Regions from separate parts of the Homo sapiens genome. Here region 1 is linked to region 2. Evidence: fine-mapped expression QTL. A gene starts in region 2. The other region holds a variant in brackets. All regions are shown on one strand. Distances are between the middles of the regions.

Region 1 (8,809 bases), 34 kb after region 2:
AGCAAGTCTGATGGCAGTAAATTCAGTTTCCCTCCGTCTGAGAATGTCTTTATTTCATCTTCATTCCTGAAGGATATTTTCACTGGATATAGAATTCTAGGATGACAGTTATTTTCTTTCAGTACTTGACAAATGTCATGCCACTTCTTTCTGGCCTCCATAGTTTCTGTTGAGAAATCTGTAGTCATTTGAATCATGGTTCCCCTGTAAGTAACATGTCACTTTTCTCTGGCTGCCTGCAAGATTTTTTGCTTTATCTTTAGTTTTAACAGTTTGAATGTGAGATGTTTGGGTCAGATTTCTTTGAATTTGTCCATGTTGGAGTTCACTGACCTTCTAGAATCTGAGATTTATGTCTTTTGCTAAACTTGGGAAATACTCTTCAACTATTTTTTTCTGTACCATACTGTTTCTCTTCTCCTAGTATTCCGATGACACACACGTTAGAGCTTTTGTAATTTTCCCACAGGTCCCTGAGGCTCTGTTTTTTTTTTTTTTTTAAACTGGTGTTCAGATTGGATGAATTCTATTGATTTTCACTGACTTTTTGCACTGCCACTTTGCTTCTGCTGTTGAAAAATTCATCCAATGAATTTTTTATTTTGGTTACTCTATCAGCTTTTTCCTTGCTAAGTCTCTCCCTTTGTTTCAAGATTGTTTGTATTTTTATAATAACTGCCCTAAAGTTTTGGATGGTTCCAGCATCTCTGTCATGTTGGCATTGGTGTCTGTTGATCATCTTTTTCCATGTGAGTTGAGATTTTCTTGGTTCTTTGTATGCCAAGTAATTTTGCAGTATCTTGAACATTTTGAATATGTATTATAGTACTCTGGGTCTTGTTTAAGTTCTGTGGAGAGTGTTGGTATTTTTGTTTTAGCAGGCAATCAACCTTGTTGGATTCAGGCCACAAGTTCTAACCAGTCTTTTCTGGGTTGTAGTTTCAGTGTTAGTTTTGTTTCTAAAGCCATTACAGTTATTTAGATTTGTCCTGTGTGTGTAACACCTGGTAGCCAATATGGGACCTAGGAATTAGGTCTATTCCCTAGTTCAGTTTTCAAAATCTGTAGTATGCTGTTTAGAGTCAGGACCATGCATGTATAGCTCAAAGGCAAACCCAGAGGTGTAGATAAACCACTCTCTTAACTAGTTGGCCATGCCCCCACAACCACTTTCAGCCTCAATACTGCAGTTGTTGGGATGTGCCATGGATTATTATGTTGATAGGCATATGTGTTTTCTCCTTTTTTCCCCTCCCATTATAGACAGTGCTGCAGTGGGCATGCTTTTACAGGTCATCATTGCATTCCTCTAAAAATATTGCTGCATATAATGCCTAGAAATCAGTTCATTCGCTTGATTTTATTTTATTCATGGACACCATTATTAAATCTACTTTAAAAAAACATTATCTAAAAATATACCTATTTACTCTTCTAGCATGACAAGTTTTAGAAAGGAGCAGTGGAAAAATTCCTTCCTTTGGGACGCTATAAATTGCAGTTGGGTTCTTATTGGGGTATCTCAGACTGAAACAAAGACCATTTTTTTCCTGTTAAGTGGGGTGAAAATAATCTATTTATGATTCCCTTTCTCTTTCTTTTCCCCAGAATTTTGATTCTGACATTAGCAGTGTGGGAATAGATGGCTGCTGGCAGGCAGACAGCCAAAGGCTTCTCAATGAGGTGATGGTGGAGCACTTCTTTCGACAAGGAATGCTGGATGTGGCTGAGGAGCTCTGTCAGGTAACAGTGTGCCAACTGGGAGGATATGAAAAAGAAACAAGGGAACTCCTTGGAGTTTATAGTATTTGCAGGGTGGGGTTTTGAGTCTTCCTCTAGCTATAGATAGATTTTTAATATTTAAATTATCAGAGATGACCTCATTTTACTAGGAGTATTTTGGGGAATTTTTTAAGTGGCAAAAATTATAGTTCTAGAACTTGTTATCCAGATCATTTTTTTCTTGTTCCTGTCCCAGAAGGTTAGTCCCAGTTCATGAATCAAAGGGCGCAAAAGCGATATTCTTTCTTCATGTCCATTTTTGATATAGAAGGTTAGTATAGCAGACAAGAGGAAAGGGACAAAAACATTGATGTTTGTTCTTCTGTTCTAGCCCAGCTTAAACGATTTTATCAAATGAATTTCCAGCTAAAATTTTTTACTTCGCATTAGCAGCATTTGTCTTTTATTTCTATCACACATGAGTTAGAACTCTACAACAGTTTACCAATACCATGTAGTCATAATAGTAGTAGCTGCCATATATTGAGTGCTTACCTTAAGCCAAGCCCTGCCTTTATTCCTTGCTGCAATCCCATGAAGTAAAAATTATTGTTTCCATTCTACAGATGAAAAATCTAAGGTCTGGAGAAGTAAGTTGCCCGAGGCCTTAACAGGTTCTTTGTGAAAGAACTGGGATTCAGTCCCTGATTCATATGTCTTCACACTCCGTTCTAAGCCACCATGTGCTGTTGCATTTTTGTTTGGAAACATGAAGGACCGAAAGAATTAGTTTAAAATCAGTCTGTAAACCAAACCTCTAATCTAAGCCTTTTCTATTTTAAACAATTCAGATAAATGATAACTCGGTTTTTCTCTGTACCTTACAGGGATTTTGTGTATGTGTCCATGTAATTTCCTGCAGTAAACTGTCATTGAGGATTGTTTGCTTTTAAGTAACAAAAGACCCACAATTACAGTGGCTTAAGCAAAAGTGAAATTTTTTTCTTGCACAGAAATCGGTAGTAAGACGTCCACAGCATGTTTGGTAGCTCTGCATTGTGAAACTCTTAGGGACTTAGCACCTTGTACCTCTGTTATTCCCAGGGTGTCTCCTGTCTTCAGAGTCCAGGATAGCAGCCAAAGCTCCAGCCATACCTTTGTATCCCAGAAAGGGGCAGAGTGCATATTTATGTTTCATTGGTCAGAACTTAACGTCTTACAAAGCCATACCCAGCTTTATTCCATTTGCTTATGTACCCTGCTGAAATTTGGGGATTCTACTATGGAAAAGAGGGGAAGAATGTACTAGGGGGCAGTCATCAGTCTCTACTATAGGGAATTATCTTTAATGGCTTGCCCCATATTTTACAATCTAGAATATACTTTTACCACTAGCTCCTTACCCTGATTACTGCTAACAAAAGTTCTTTCTTTCTTTCTTTTTCCAGGAATCTGGTCTTTCTGTAGACCCAAGTCAGAAGGAACCATTTGTGGAGTTAAATAGAATATTAGAGGCATTAAAGGTCAGAGTTCTGAGACCTGCTCTGGAGTGAGTATTGAGTTTGCTTTCTTTTGAGTACTTTGAGAACTCTCTGTAAGAAAACTCAATCAGAAAACACATTAGAGATTTTTAGATATATTTATCTTACCTGTGGTAGACTTCAGAGAAATCAAAGGAGAATTATTTTATTTATTTTGGCTAAGTGAAATATGGGGGGTGTGCAATATGAGAAAATGGTTGGAGCTTATTTCACTTATCAGTTGGTCTGAATTCCCATGAGAGAAAAGGGTTTTCTGTTTCCAGGCTACACCACCACTTTGTGTGGGCTGACATTACAACAAGCACTATTGTTCAGCCAGTGCAAGTTTGATATTTAAGCTTCCTTCATGTGCTGGGTTTTGCTGGGTTTTATGCTAGCATTCTAAGAAATTATTGGTTATTGGAACTAGGTGGTGTGGATGAAGAGAACAAATATTTTTATAAAGCTACTCTATTCTTAATTACTGTGGATTTTGGTAATTGACCATGAACCTCTCATTGATAAGAATTGTCTGAAATTACTCTGTAAGCTATAATAAATATTATTCTAGAGCAGGGTCAGCAAGCTTTTCCATAAAGGACCAAGTAGGAAATATTTTAGGCTTTTCATTTCACATAAGGTCTCTGTCGCATATTCTTCATTTTATTTTACAACCCTTTAAAAATTTAAAAACCCATTCTTGGCCATCTGCTATACAAAACAGGCAGCAAGCTGTATGTGGCCTGTGCCATAGTTTGCTGGCCCCAGTCCTAAAATTTTTTACTGTGAGGATTACCAGGTTATTTGTAATAAATAGCTCATAAAATAAAGGGAAGAAACTGGATTATAGAAGCAGTGATTTGTTGTGAGCTTATAGCTTTGGAATCCTGGTATTTTAAAACCAGAAAAATTAACCATCAGTGTTACAGGGTTAGCTGGGAAGTTGACTTTTATAAAATGTACACTTTTTCCCTTAAAATTTAGTTCCACTAACCCATTTAATTCTTCATAGCTTAGTTTTTTCTTTCTAATCATTTCTCAGTTCTTTCTCCTTTTTGAGACAGGGTCTCACTGTCACCCAGGCTAGAGTGCAGTGGCATAATCATGGCTCACTCCAGCCCCAACCCCCCAACCTCCCGCCTTAGCCTCCTGAGTAGTTGGGACTACAGGACTGTGCCGTTATGCCCAGCTAATTAAAAAAAATTTTTTTTTGTAGAGACAGGATCTCACTATGTTACCCAGGCTGGTTTCGAACTCCTGAGCTCAAGTGATTCTCCCACCTCGGCTTCCCAAAGTGCTGGAATTACAGACTTGAGCCTCTGTACTTGGCCATTTCTCAGTTCTGAGAAAATTTTGTGTAGTTCTAAAACCAGCCCAGATGACTAGACAGAAATTCCTGTATAAATTTATATAAAATTCTTGTATAAATTATAATAGATCTCACTTAAGAACTGTATCTCTGTGTAAGATGCATATTACCTTTGTAGAATTTGTTTAAGCAAATTTCAGATTGTGACACATCTGGGAGATAAATTCAACCAAATAC[C/T]TCTAACACCTCTTAAACAAAATATGGCAACAACTACTTTTTTTTTTTTTTTTCCCAAAGAGACAGAGTCTTGCTCTGTGGCCCAGGCTAGAGTGCAGTGGGATGATCATAGCTCACTGCACACTCTCAAACTCCTGGGCTTAAGTAATCCTCCTGCCCCGGCCTCCTGAGTAGCTAAGACTACAGGTGCACACCACCACACCTGGCTAATTTTTAAATATTTTATAGAGACAGGATTTCTCTATGTCGCTCAGGCTGGTCTCAAACTTCTGGCCTCAAGTGATCCTCCTGGAGCGTCAGCTGCCCGAAGTACTGGGATTATAGGCATGGGCCAATGTGCCCGAGAAAGCCTACATACATATATGAACATGTAATGGGTTTCCCAGTTGTTTTATAGTGATTAGCAAATAATATTTGGGTTGTTATTCAAGGTAATATTCACTTATCTATGCGTTTCTTAGGTTTTTTCATTAAACTTTGTTCATATGTGCTAGTCATGTACGTACTATGACTATATCTGTAGTCACTGGCACATAGTATTTGCTACCTTAGCCTTCAGAGTACTCCAGACTTTTCTCCTAAGAGCCTTTTAAACTTTGTGCGTATATAAGATATGTTTCTTATTGATAAGCATGTTATGTATATTGATTATTTCTGTAAATTTTGTCTATTATTTGTTGCCTTAAAACAATTCCTCTCAGGCAGAGAGAGGACTTGTTCCATAAGTAAAAATTTTCTCATTTCATGTTTCTGGGAGTAGTGTTTAATATCAGCATGAGGGAATGTAGTGGTAATCATAGTTAACTCTGCTTGAGTGGTTATTGTATGCCTAGCATCGTTCTAAGCATTTTACGTGTCTTAACCTATTCAACCCTCATATTAACCTATGAGGTAAGTCATCTTACAGAGAAGCAATTAGGGCCTAGAAGATCCTCTGTGAAAAAAAGTCAAAAGATTATATGAGAAATGCTTTACATAATAGTCCCCCAGTATTCTCATTTGAGGTTCATTTTAACTTATTAAGTGTATCATCAAGCCAGGTGCAGTGGCTCACACCTGTAAGCCCAGCACTTTGGGAAGCTGAGGTGGGCAGATCGCTTGAGCCCAGGAGTTCGAGACCAGCCTGGGCAACATAGCAAAACCCTATCTCTACAAAAAAATAGAAAAATTAGCTGGGTATGGTGGTGTACGCCTGTAGTCTGAACTACTCAGGAGGCTGAAATGGGAGGATCACTTGAGCCCAGGAGGCGGAGTCTGCAGTGAACCAAGACCACACCACCACTCCAGAGCCGAATCCTGTCTCAAAAAATAAGAAAATAAATAGAAGTAAAAACGTACCATCAGTAATCCTACAGTAAAGAAACTCATTTAACTTGGTATAACCCAGTGTTTTCTCTGTGTATTTGACCAATCTTGTTTTCCCTCCAGATAACACATTTAAAACCCATAAAATTGGAGTTATACAAAACATAAGATTTAATAGAAATCGTCATTACAACAATTCAGATTTTTCCAATTCTTGCCTATTGTGGGTGCAGAGCAGATACTGACTAAGCATCTTTCATGAGCTAGGTACAGAAAATTCCCTTTACTCAACTTACAGCAAAAGTTGAATGATATGGGACTCCAATTTGGGGAATTCTAGTTAAGGTACAAGGCGGGAGATATCTGCCAGTTATGCAGCATCCCATTTGTTCCTGCTGGGAAGGATATCATGGAGCTCACAAGGGAAAAGAGGAAGGAGAGGATGCAGCAATTCCTCCAGACTGCCTATGCGGTGAGAAGGCAGAGGCCAGCCAAAAATTTGAGGTGGCTAGGCCGGGCACGGTGGCTCATGCCTGTAATCCCAGCACTTTGGGAGGCCAAGGCGGGCGAATCATCTGAGGTCAGGAGTTCAAGACGAGCCTGACCAACGTGGAGAAACCCCATCTCTATTAAAAATACAAAATTAGCCAGGTATGGTGGCGCATGCCTGTAATCCCAGCTACTCAGGAAGGCTGAGGCAGGAGAATCGCTTGAACCCGGGAGGCGGAGGTTGCGGTGAGCCAAGATCGCGCCACTGCACTCCAGCCTGGGCAACAAGAGTGAAACTCAGTCTCAAAAAAAAAAAAAAAAAAAAAAAAAAAAAAAAAGTGGAGGTGGCTAAAGGCCATTGAGGGCCTAGGGGAATGGTGATATTGTGGAGAGAAGTGGCAGAACAACACCTGATTACATAGATCTAATCAGGACCTTGCCTGCTCCTGTGTTCCGTGCCCTTGTACCTCTGAGTTTGTACAGATTTTCCCCCTCATCCAGATTTCTTTTATGCTCACCCAGATTGTTTTATTTGCTTTTTGAATTTCTCTTGGCGCCTAGAGTAGTGCTTACCTCATAGTAGGCCCTCAATGAATAACAGTAATCTGCAGGAGAATTTAGAGCAAACTTGTCATCCTCTTCCATGGTGGCAGATAGAAAGCCAAAAATAGTGTTAACGAGAGAATAGTAACTTAATACAACGAGGTGGGGGAAATATTAGAAAAAATAGGAACTGTCCTTGTAGCTATGCCATTATTAACATACATATTGAAAGAAAGCACTATCTTTAGGGGAAGCTACTTGGTTGCCTTCCTAAACGTGTCTCAAAGAGTAATACTACCTTGCTGGATTTGCCACAGTCTAGTATCTGACTTTCAGCTTTGCAGACTTGGAAACTTGTTTTTGGTGTCCTTATTTTGTTTTGTTTTCACTAAGAACAGGCCTTTAAAAACGATAAAAACCTGAATTGCTAAGCTGCGTACATAGTTTGGATTATTAGGGGCTGTGAAACAAGCTTGTGGTAGGCAGGTCCATGTGGAAGGCACATGAGCTTGCAAAGCCTGGAGTTGGAACAAGAGGAGATTGTTCTAGAAAATGTTCAAAGTTCTCAGGCTAAAATGTCCTGATGCCATTATGTCCACCATGGAGGTTGTGTTGCAGAGCCGTTGGGCAGTTCAGACTTCATTCACTGACTCCTTTTCTCAAAATTGTCCTTGGCTTGCCTTGGTCGAGTTTTGAGTCAGCATTAAGTATCCCAATAGGTAATAAATAAGAGTACAAAATCAAAAGGCACAACAAGATAAAAATACAGTGAAAAGTAAATCTCCCCACCTTTGCCTTCTAATCACAGTTACTCTCCAAACAGGCAGCCACCATTAACTGTATTATGTATACGTACATTTTTATGCACAAGTGGTTGCATACTATACACAGTGTTCTGCTTTTTACTTGAAAAATTTTGAAGTATTTGCCTATATCAGAGCATATAGAACTATTTTTTTTTTTTGGTGGCTGCTTAGTGTTCTCTTTTAGGGATTATACCTTAATTTTATTTAGCCAGTTCCTATGGATGGACGTTTGTAGTTTCCGATATTTTGCTTTATAAGTGATGCAGCATTGAATATCCGTTGCACATTATTTTGAGCATGCCTGCTAGATATGTTGTCCAATATGGTGACCACTCCTATGTGTAGCTCTTACTAATCTCTGCATTACTGAGAACCTCATGTAAAAGGGTGTGTGTGTGTGTCTTAAATAGAGTCAGATATGCAATACCATAGTTTGTGTGGTTTCTTAAATAGCATGTGAAAAGGACAGAGACTCACACCAACTCTGAGATGAGTTTAATGGTAGTAGTTCCAGCAGTGGACTCAGCCCATAGCTGAAAAATTACCATTTGAAAATATCTAAGAAATGAAACACTGAGTGTTCTTTTCAGTCTCTAAAGCAAAGTTACAGAGTTCCTCACTTTTTTGACTGAACTTTTTGTCAGGTTTGCCATTCTCTGAATTTTTTTAAGCATTTGATTCATGTTACTAAGGACATTTCACCAGGTCCACACCTGTGGAGTAAAAATCAATGTCATTCATTCCCCTGAACTTCAGCTTTTACCCCCAAGAGTATAGCCTTAAAGGAAATTAGAAAAAGAGGTTTTTGTAAGCCTTTAAATGCTGTGAAAGGTTACAGTGGAATGTGCTGTGGGATTGGCAAGAGGCTTTTTTTCCCT
Region 2 (8,809 bases):
GGCCGAGGCGCGTGGATCACGGGGTCAGGAGATCGAGATCATCCTGGCTAACACAGTGAAACCCCGTCTCTAGTAAAAATACAAAAAAAGATTAGCTGGGTGTGGTGGCGGGCGCCTGTAGTCCCAGCTACTCGGGAGGCTGAGGCAGGAGAATGGCGTGAACCCAGGAGGCGGAGCTTGCAGAGAGCCGAGATCGCGCCACTGCACTCCAGCCTGGGCGACAGATCGAGACGCTGGCTCAAAAAAAAAAAAAAAAAAAAAAAAAAAAACTAATTTGCAGTTGCTCTGAAAACTAAATTTCTTTCCCTGTTGTTTCTAGAGGTGCTTCTTTGACAATTCACAGTTTAGGCTTAAGGCAATTAGGCACTGTGTAGAAAGGGCCAATACAAAGTGAAGAAGCAACATAAATCTCTGCCCTTACAAGTACTATTTTTCTCTCCCAGCTAACTCTGAAGCCTCTTCTCCTCTAATCTGCGTATTCTTTTTCCTTTAACAAACACTTTTTTTCATGCTGATTAAATCATGGGAGATAAAAAGAAGTCAGCCCAGATCTGAAAACTGATAGTCTAGTTGAGTCAAAAAGGCACATGTTGGAAAAGTTAACTAAAAATATGGGGGCAGTATGCACTAAGGCATGAAATGACTTACACAGAGGTCTTACAGCAGTTAAAGGTAGGGCTGGTAACTTTACTGTGGTCATGGTCTAGATCAGCACTGTCCAACAAAACTTTTCTACAGTGATGGAAATATTTATTTTGCGCTGATTAATACAGTAGCCACCAGCTACATGTGGTTATTATTTGATATGTGGTTAGCACAATTGGGGAACTAAATTTTAAATTATCTAGCTTATATTTCAATTTAAATAGCTACACGTGGGTCGGGTGCGGTGGCTCACGCCTATAAATCCCAGCACTTTGGGAGGCTGAGGCGGGTGGATCACGAGGCCAGGAGTTTGAGACCAGCCAGGCCAATATGGTGAAACCCTGTCTCTACCAAAAATACAAAAATTAGCTGGGCGTGGTGGTGTGTGCCTGTAGTCCCAGCTGCTCAGGAGGCTGAGGTAGGAGAATCACTTGAACCCGGGAGGCAGAGGTTGCAGTCAGCCGAGATCCCACCACTGCACTCCAGCCTTGGTGACAGAGTAAGACTCCATCTCAAAACAAAAAAACAAAAAAACAAACAAACAAAAAAACCTGCTTGTGGCTGGTGATTATGGTATTGAAGAGTGCAGGACTAGGTTCTAGAAGGTGTCACTAGTTAAAGTAAGACTTGTCTTGTTACTTGAAGAAAGGGAGGATTCGAAAAACAGAATAAAGAAAAGTGTCCCAGAAGAAGGCAAAGTATGAATGGGCTGTACTCAAGTCACACTAAGGGTGGGAAAGTGCTTCATGCCTGGATAGGGGTTTGTGCTGTGTTGCTACACAGGGCAGACCATGTCCTTGAGAGAGGATCTGAAGCTGTAGGTAATGAGGAGTCATTGATTATTTGTGATCAGTGGATTATCATGGCTCTTACCTTGTGCCAGGCATTTTGTTGAGTGCCTTAAATGGAATATTTCATACTATAACAACCCTTTGAAGGAGAAGAAAAAAAAAAGACTGAGAAAAGGGTGACTGAGCTTATCAAGGAGATCCTTGAAGAAAAGGGAGGAATAAACATAGATTTGTCTAGGCAGTTTGGCAGTGAAAGAAATGAGTGCTTGAGGAGGGTTAAATTAAGTTTCCTCCCCCAGGTAGGTCAAACCCATTTGGGCTGAAAGTAGAAAGGAAGAACCTACTGCAGAGAAAGAGGGGGAAGATCTGGACAGGGGTGAGAGGCAGCCCGCAGGCCCCAACGGCTGTCTTGGAAAGGGAGAAGGGACTCCTGGTCCTTTGGGTACATGAGAATGTTCACAAAATGGGTGGTACACAGCAATACTTGGAGAAGAGTGATAGAAGTTGCTGGAGCTAGATTTTTTTTTTTTTTTTAATCTCAGTGAAGAATCAGAGACATCTGCCAAGAGGGAAGAAAAATGGGGTGGGGAGAAGGGAGATCTGAAATAATACCAGTTGGGGCTGCCCTAATAATGACTACTACCACCTTTATCATGTGGTTATCATGAGCCTATTATGGGTATTTACATATATTCTCCTTTATCTAACAATTTAGTTAAGTATTAATTCCAATTATTTCTCAGTTATACGGAAGTTAAGGCTCAAAAACGTTATCACGTTAATTTAAGAAAAAGAATTGCCTACCACCTCACGCCAGGGGCTGTTCTAGGCAAAAAATTTAGACAAGCAGGGGGCCTGCCGTCATGGTTTTATGTAAGTGGTGCAGACAGAAAAATAAAACATCAGATCATTTCAGAGTTTAAGTGGTGTGGAAATAATAAAATGTGTTATGGTATTAACGGTGGGGAGGAAGTACATTAGTGTGGTCAGCCAGGGGAGGACCCTGTAAGGGGACAAGTGAGCTGAGAAGAACTTCAGGATGAAAAAGGTAGGAGGAAGAGTTTTCTGGGCCAAGGAAAGGGCAAGTGCAGAGGCCCTGAGGCACGAACTAGCTGGGCTCCTGAAGAAATGCAAAGGTAGTGCAGCCGATGCTGATCAAGGAGGTCTAGGCCAAGGCTGCAGACGCCATAGCAAGCGATGGGAAGGATTTACCCGAGGGGGTAAAGCCGATCCGATCCGATAGCATAAGGCTTCCTAGGGAGCAAGGGCCAGGCTGCCCGGCTCTCCAGCGCGTGTTCTTTCCACCCGGCTAAGCTGCCCGGCACATGGCTCTGGGGCGAGGCCACCGTCAGGAGAGGTTCCAGGCCAAGGGGCCAAAGGGCCACGGTCCGCGGGGGATGGGGACATGACCTCCTGGGTGTCGCAAGCCCGGGGCAGCGCTGACAGCCGGCGCGGGCCTTTCGCGAGCAGCAAGCGGCTCCCCTCACCCGGGCCCAATCACCCCCGCCTTTAATTCCCATTAGGGACCCCCCGCCGACGCAGAACCAGCCCCCGGGCGGCCTGGCTTGGTTTTTCATTCCCGGGAGATGGATCCGTCGCCCAAAAGTTCGGAATGACGGTACCCCTTTCCCTTAAGATCGATGAGGAGACGAAATAAATTGGGATCAGGGCGACGTCCTATGGAAAACAGCCTTTTGTATTTTTGTCTAGTTTTCCCCCAAGGCTTTCCATAAACTACTCGTTTCTCGGTACGCTCTCCAAGTCACCCCCTCCAACAGCGAGCCCGTTGGTTTGGCCCCTCAGCCCGGATTGGCTGAAGGCTTACGCCTCGGCCAGGGATTGGCTTCTTACCACTCCCCGCGCCCATTGGTTGGGGTTCCCCGCTTCTGGGCGGAGTGGTGAGGGCCGGTTTCCGCCTCCTTGTTTATGGAGCGCGTAGTTGTTGCGCTCTCCGAGCGCTGGGGCTGTCTCCAAAGTTCCCTATTTAGCTCCTCAGGCCAATTGGGGCCTCGCTCCACCCTCGCCCTCTCCCTCGCACGCCTTCCGTGTGGTACGGCCCACACCATTAGAGTGGCGGCGCGTGTGGGCGCCCGTCGCGTTCCTCCGCCCGTTCTCGCCGGGTCGCACCCCCCACCCCGAGGGTGTACTTGGTACGGCCCGCGCCGCCTCCTTTCCTCGCCCGGGTGGCCATCCCCCTCCCCCCAGTCGGCGGCGCTTGGTGCCGCCCGGGAGAACCAGGTCATCGGTCGGTTCCCGTGAAAACAAAAACAATCGGCCGCGCCGTCGCAGGCACCCGAACGTCGCGAGCGGGGCCTGGGGACGCGGAGCCGAGTGCAGCGAGCGAACGGGAGCAGCGGCGACTCGCCGGGGGGCTAGGGCGCCATGGGGCAGGCGGGCTCCGGCTGCGCGGGGCTCCCCCGGCGCCGCGGCTAGTGCGCCCGCCGCCTCGGCCGCCTCAGCCTCCCGCGCCGCCCGCTTGGGGAACGAGGAGCAGGACGCGGCCTCGGTGGGGCCCGGGCCGAACGGCTGCGGACACCTGGGCGCCGAGGAGCCGAGCGCCGCCGCCTCCGGCATGGATCAGTGCGTGACGGTGGAGCGCGAGCTGGAGAAGGTGCTGCACAAGTTCTCAGGCTACGGGCAGCTGTGCGAGCGCGGCCTGGAGGAGCTCATCGACTACACCGGCGGCCTCAAGCACGAGATCCTGCAGAGCCACGGTAGGGCGGCCCGCGTGGGCGCGCGGGGCATGGCCCACTGCCCGAGCCCCGGTCCCGGCCCCGCGGCGGGAATCCCTCACCCACCCTCGCGCCTCTGGCCCGGCCCTTGCCTCCCCTGAGGCGCGGAGGCCCCCAGACCCCTGAGACTTTTTCCCCTCTTCGTCCGATTTACCTCGAACCTGCCGCGACCTCGCTGCCAATTCAGAAGGAGCGCGAACCACCCGGAAACCCAGCCGGGAGCGGCGGGCTCCAGTCCGGATAAACGTGGGTGAGGGGGCCGCCCATCGCACCTGCAAACTGCCGACCCCCGAGTGGGCGCCCCTCGTCCCCCGCTCCCAGCCGGCCCCGGGAGTCTCACGTGGTGCCCGCGGCGCTGTTCTGTGGGCGGTGACTGAATCGCCTGGGACCCCAGGTTCTGAGTGATGAGGGCAGTGCAGGAAGCTCCGTTTCCCCTCTGTGCCGCCCCGAATCCTTGGCCAGGGGACTTCGTTTCTTCGTTTTATTTTGGAAAGTCGAGCGTTATTCTTAGCTGTGGGTTAACAACAGCCGCTCCTGCAACTTCATGATTTGGCTGCTGTGTGGACGCAGCTCTTAACTCCGCAGCGGCTCTGACATGGTTCCTTGGAAACCAGCTCAATTCAACCCTTCTGTTCTCCCAGTGTACCTTCTGATGACACCGAGGAGGAACGGGCGACATTTGCCCAAGTAAATTGTGCACATGTTGCTAGTTACTTGCTTTGCCTGGTTAAGTTCGTTCAAAAAAAATAAATTTTCCTATAGAAGGTGTTTCACCTAGATTGTTTTTTTTTTTACTGCCCCAAGCCCTGAGGACAGGTACTTTTAAAGGTTTGGTTTTCTTACACTTTAGAAGTCACAGCGATGATTCCTTTTGATCAAGAAGTGAAGGACTTATTTAATGGGTCTTTAATAAGAGGCTGAGGGGGCTTTTCAGCTTGTGGGCTGAACAGAAATTTATGTGAAGGACGGTTTGGTAGCTGGGGGAAGATGCAGATTATTTGTGGCAGGTGAGATGAGGGCAGTGGCGTTAGCTGAGTGTCTCTCTCCTTCTCCTTCATTTTTTCACACTTTCCCAGACTGCGTTTCAGTTGAGGATGGGTGCTGGTCCATGGGAAAGGAGTCTTACAGCAGCTTCTCATTCTGGACACTGCAGTCATTTTTGAACTCCAGGAAGGAAGCAAACCTGCAGTCATAGTGGATGAGATTTTAATATGGAAAAACCGTATTAATTCTCATAGGAGTTGCAATACTAGTATGGAAAAACGAGCAGACCTTGGTGGCTGCCTGTGAAGGGAAATTTGACTGACGTGGCGATGATGATATAGTTGGTAGATACAGGGAAGTGAAGGTGGAATGGGACAGGAATCCTGGGAAGACTTTGAATTTGGTTTTGGACATGTGAAGTAAGGTTGAAGGGCTTAATGAAGATAGAATCGAGGGCTTTCCTATTTACTGGTGGCTGGAGATGCATAGGTCTAAGATTGTTTTCTGATGTCATTTCTAGGAGGACAGTGGAGGGGATCACTTAGATTGCACAGAAGAAAGACTAGAGTCTAACCACAGTCTTGAATTTTCCTTGGCGAGTGGAGAGCCAAGGCTAGATAGAGCCAGCAGAAATCGAAAAGGGCGAGGACTTAGAAAAGGAGAGATTGGTCAGCTTTTATTTGGCTATTGGGAGTCAGTAACCCTCTGTGCTTGCAGTTTCATAGAATTGCTAAGACAAGCCAGATTACTGGGGGTTAAGAAGAAAAATTCGATGTGAACCGAGGTGTGGGAAATCCAGTACAGCGGTGGGAGGTATTCCCTCTGTGCTCCCGGCCCTGCCAAGGAACCAGTGGAGGAAGAGAATGAAGGGCCTAGACTTGGAGAGGTGGAAGGAACATTTCGTTTTTAGGGACCAGGTCATAGGCAGAGTTTGAGAGGAAAATGATGGAACAGAAAGTACCTTTCTTCCATGAGAGAGGATGTAAGTTGAAGGGGGATGTGATTGTGAGCTTTGTTTTAGAAAATTTAGGGCCAGGCTCAGATGGATAAAATGATGGTGAGAAATTGCTGAGGCAGGAATTTGTTTTTGACTCTCCACTGGGTACTAGGGAACTTTTCTCAGAATTTATGGTTTGAGGGGTATTGGCCACACAGTATGCTATGCTGTTAAAAACAGTCTGAGTTGGTGAGTTTGTGTGTTCCCTTTTCAGCCTCCTAATTTTTTCCCTCTTGTCTACCAAATTGCTAGTCTTATATTGGTATCTCTTTGATTTCCTTTAATTCTTCAATAATAGGATTAAGTGACTAAAGGTAGTTATAAAACATGAAAGAAAATAAATACCACAAGTGCCAGGTCTAGTTTCCCAAATAAAATCTTTCTTCTTTTGGTGTTTTTTTGTGTAAAGATAAACATCATGCTTTGGCATCTGGGCTATGGTATTTTTGAAAACAGATGATTTCTAAATTAAAGTTCTCGGCAGGTGATGTGGTAGATATTACATTGAAACTTAAATATGCCCTTCTCAAAGGTATTTTACTGAAAACTGAGTTTGGAACTCTATTTTCAAGTTTAAAGGGAAGATTTTTGGGCTTCTGAATATACCTGTCTGGGCAAATGATTCTGATAACCTGAGAGGCTCTAATTGGGACCCCTCTGTCAGGACTTTGGACCTCATTCTCTGAGATTACTTGTGGTAATACTTGCAAGAATCTGGTATGAATAAAACAGAATTTTTGAGGACTATATAGAACACATCATTGCATCATACTGGTGAATGACTGTTGCAGAAGCATCCTTTAGCCAACCTAAAGGGATTGGTTCAGTTTCTGAGGATGAATGTTTTATGTTAAAATTTTTTTTTCATCTCTGAAGTTGTGAGCAGACAGCTATATACTAAATGAGCTGTTAGGATAGTTTGTGATGGAAACTGATCATACATAAATAAGAGTTTAGTTAGTAAGCCCATTGACAACCCTTTTCTAGTCTCAGCACCCTTATTCCAGATTGTAAATACTGCCTGATTGCTGGCTGGGAGATAGTCCTGCAGTGAGCCCTAAAATTTCTCAGGTGGTCTAAATCACCTTTAAGTAGCTTGAAATTCTTTTACATAAAATTTCTCTCGTTAATCTTTTTTAAAATGCAAGTTTCTTAATGCAGATACACTTGGGGAAATGAGGATAGTATGGGCTGGTCTCTCATACCTGGTGAATTGGTTTGTGCTCTGCCATTTAATCCACCTCTGGCCAAATCCGTCAGCCTGACAACAGGAATATCTTTTTTTTTTTTTCTTTTAAATGGGGTTGGACTGGTATCAGGCCTGCAGCAGAGAACAATAATGGAATATAAGGCTCTGAGAGGGAAGTGCAGGCTTCGACTTGGTGCCATAGACAGTTAGGGAATATTGGTGGTTCAGGGACAACATAGGTGTAATAGAAACATGAAGAGGCAATAAGAACCAGGGAGAATACTGAAGAGCTCTGCCGAGGCCAAGACATTCCTCTCCCTGGAGACTGACTCTAGACTTCTCTTCATGCCTTTGGAATTAGAAACCTTAGGGTGGTAGATAGGAGGGTGGGGAGTGATCCAGAGCCTGCAGTGAGGTGTCCAAGGTAAGAGGAATAGAGATCACAGCTTCTGTCATTTAGTTGTGCCAGCCTTTCAGTGAGAGTTTCCCTGTGAGCACGAAGTTTGGTCTAAGTTCATTGTGGTTAATGTAGGCTGGTGGTCATTCCCAGTGTGCCTCGATCTAATTTGTATAGTGCACTGGTGCTTCTAAAACTTCACTCATACACATGTGCACTCTTATTTTTCAGATGGATTCACGATTTTACTTAAGTAGATTTATCTTAGGCAGTGATATTTGTGTAGTCCTACATGTGGTATGTAGGTATTAGGTATAATAAACTACATGTTAAAATAAATTCATAACAATTAAAATATTAGTTTACATACTAGCTAAAATTACCATTCGCATCAGTGGTATGGGAGCGGTGCTTTGGATAACCCTGGCTTAACAGGGTTAACTACTGTATGGTTAACTTTTAGTGATTTGATTTGTGAGTATATGCCTTTTAGCATTTTTTTCCTATTGGCAAATTTATATTGTTTCCCATTAGCACCTCTGTGGTGGAAGGGAAAAACAGAAAAGAACTATTTATCATGTTTTGCTGGTATTCTGCACTCATACTTTGTGAAAGAAAATTAGGCAGAAACAGTTGGTAATGGTTTCAGGACACATTTAAAAGTATACTTGGGAAAATTGCAGTTTTTGTAAGAGTAAAGGACATGCAGTATTCTTTTCTGATTATTTTTAGACTAACGGAGTTCTAATGTGGTTTCTGAAAGTGACTTTCAAGGAATTTTCTAAATTTAAAATTTATTTATTAATTTTTAGTAAGTCATACATTCAAATGGTATCCATTCAAACAATGAAAAAGATAACCCAGTGAATAGTACATTCAAATGGTATAAACTCAAATGATAAAAAAGGACACCCATTGAAAAATCTTTCTACTCTTGTTCCTGGACCACCTGGTTGCCCACTTCACAGACATAAATGCCAGTCTCCAGAAAAAAAATTTTTTTGTTGTTTTTTGAGACAGCCTCCCTCTGTCACCCAGGCTGGAGTGCAGTGGTGCGATCTTAGCTCACTGCAA

What was found. PIP is the estimated chance that this variant, and not a neighbour inherited with it, causes the effect.
Region 1: its variant is fine-mapped to the expression of RMND5A in whole blood (TOPMed, PIP above 0.99).

The regions. Positions count from the first base shown.
Region 1 is chr2:86,750,288-86,759,096 of GRCh38, forward strand. RMND5A (required for meiotic nuclear division 5 homolog A) reads left to right here. Exons shown (of 9, transcript NM_022780.4): 3 at 1,609-1,743; 4 at 3,171-3,271. Among named protein-coding and RNA genes, the nearest start is that of RNF103-CHMP3, 34 kb to the left of the region's middle. The variant C/T (reference allele first, on the strand shown) is at 4,789.
Region 2 is chr2:86,716,660-86,725,468 of GRCh38, forward strand. RMND5A (required for meiotic nuclear division 5 homolog A) reads left to right here and starts at 3,632. Exons shown (of 9, transcript NM_022780.4): 1 at 3,632-4,150. The coding sequence starts at 4,009. RNF103-CHMP3 (RNF103-CHMP3 readthrough) reads right to left here and starts at 4,463. Exons shown (of 8, transcript NM_001198954.1): 1 at 4,323-4,463. RefSeq lists enhancers at 2,825-3,358, 8,324-8,809 and silencers at 3,479-3,668, 3,552-3,710, 4,189-4,248.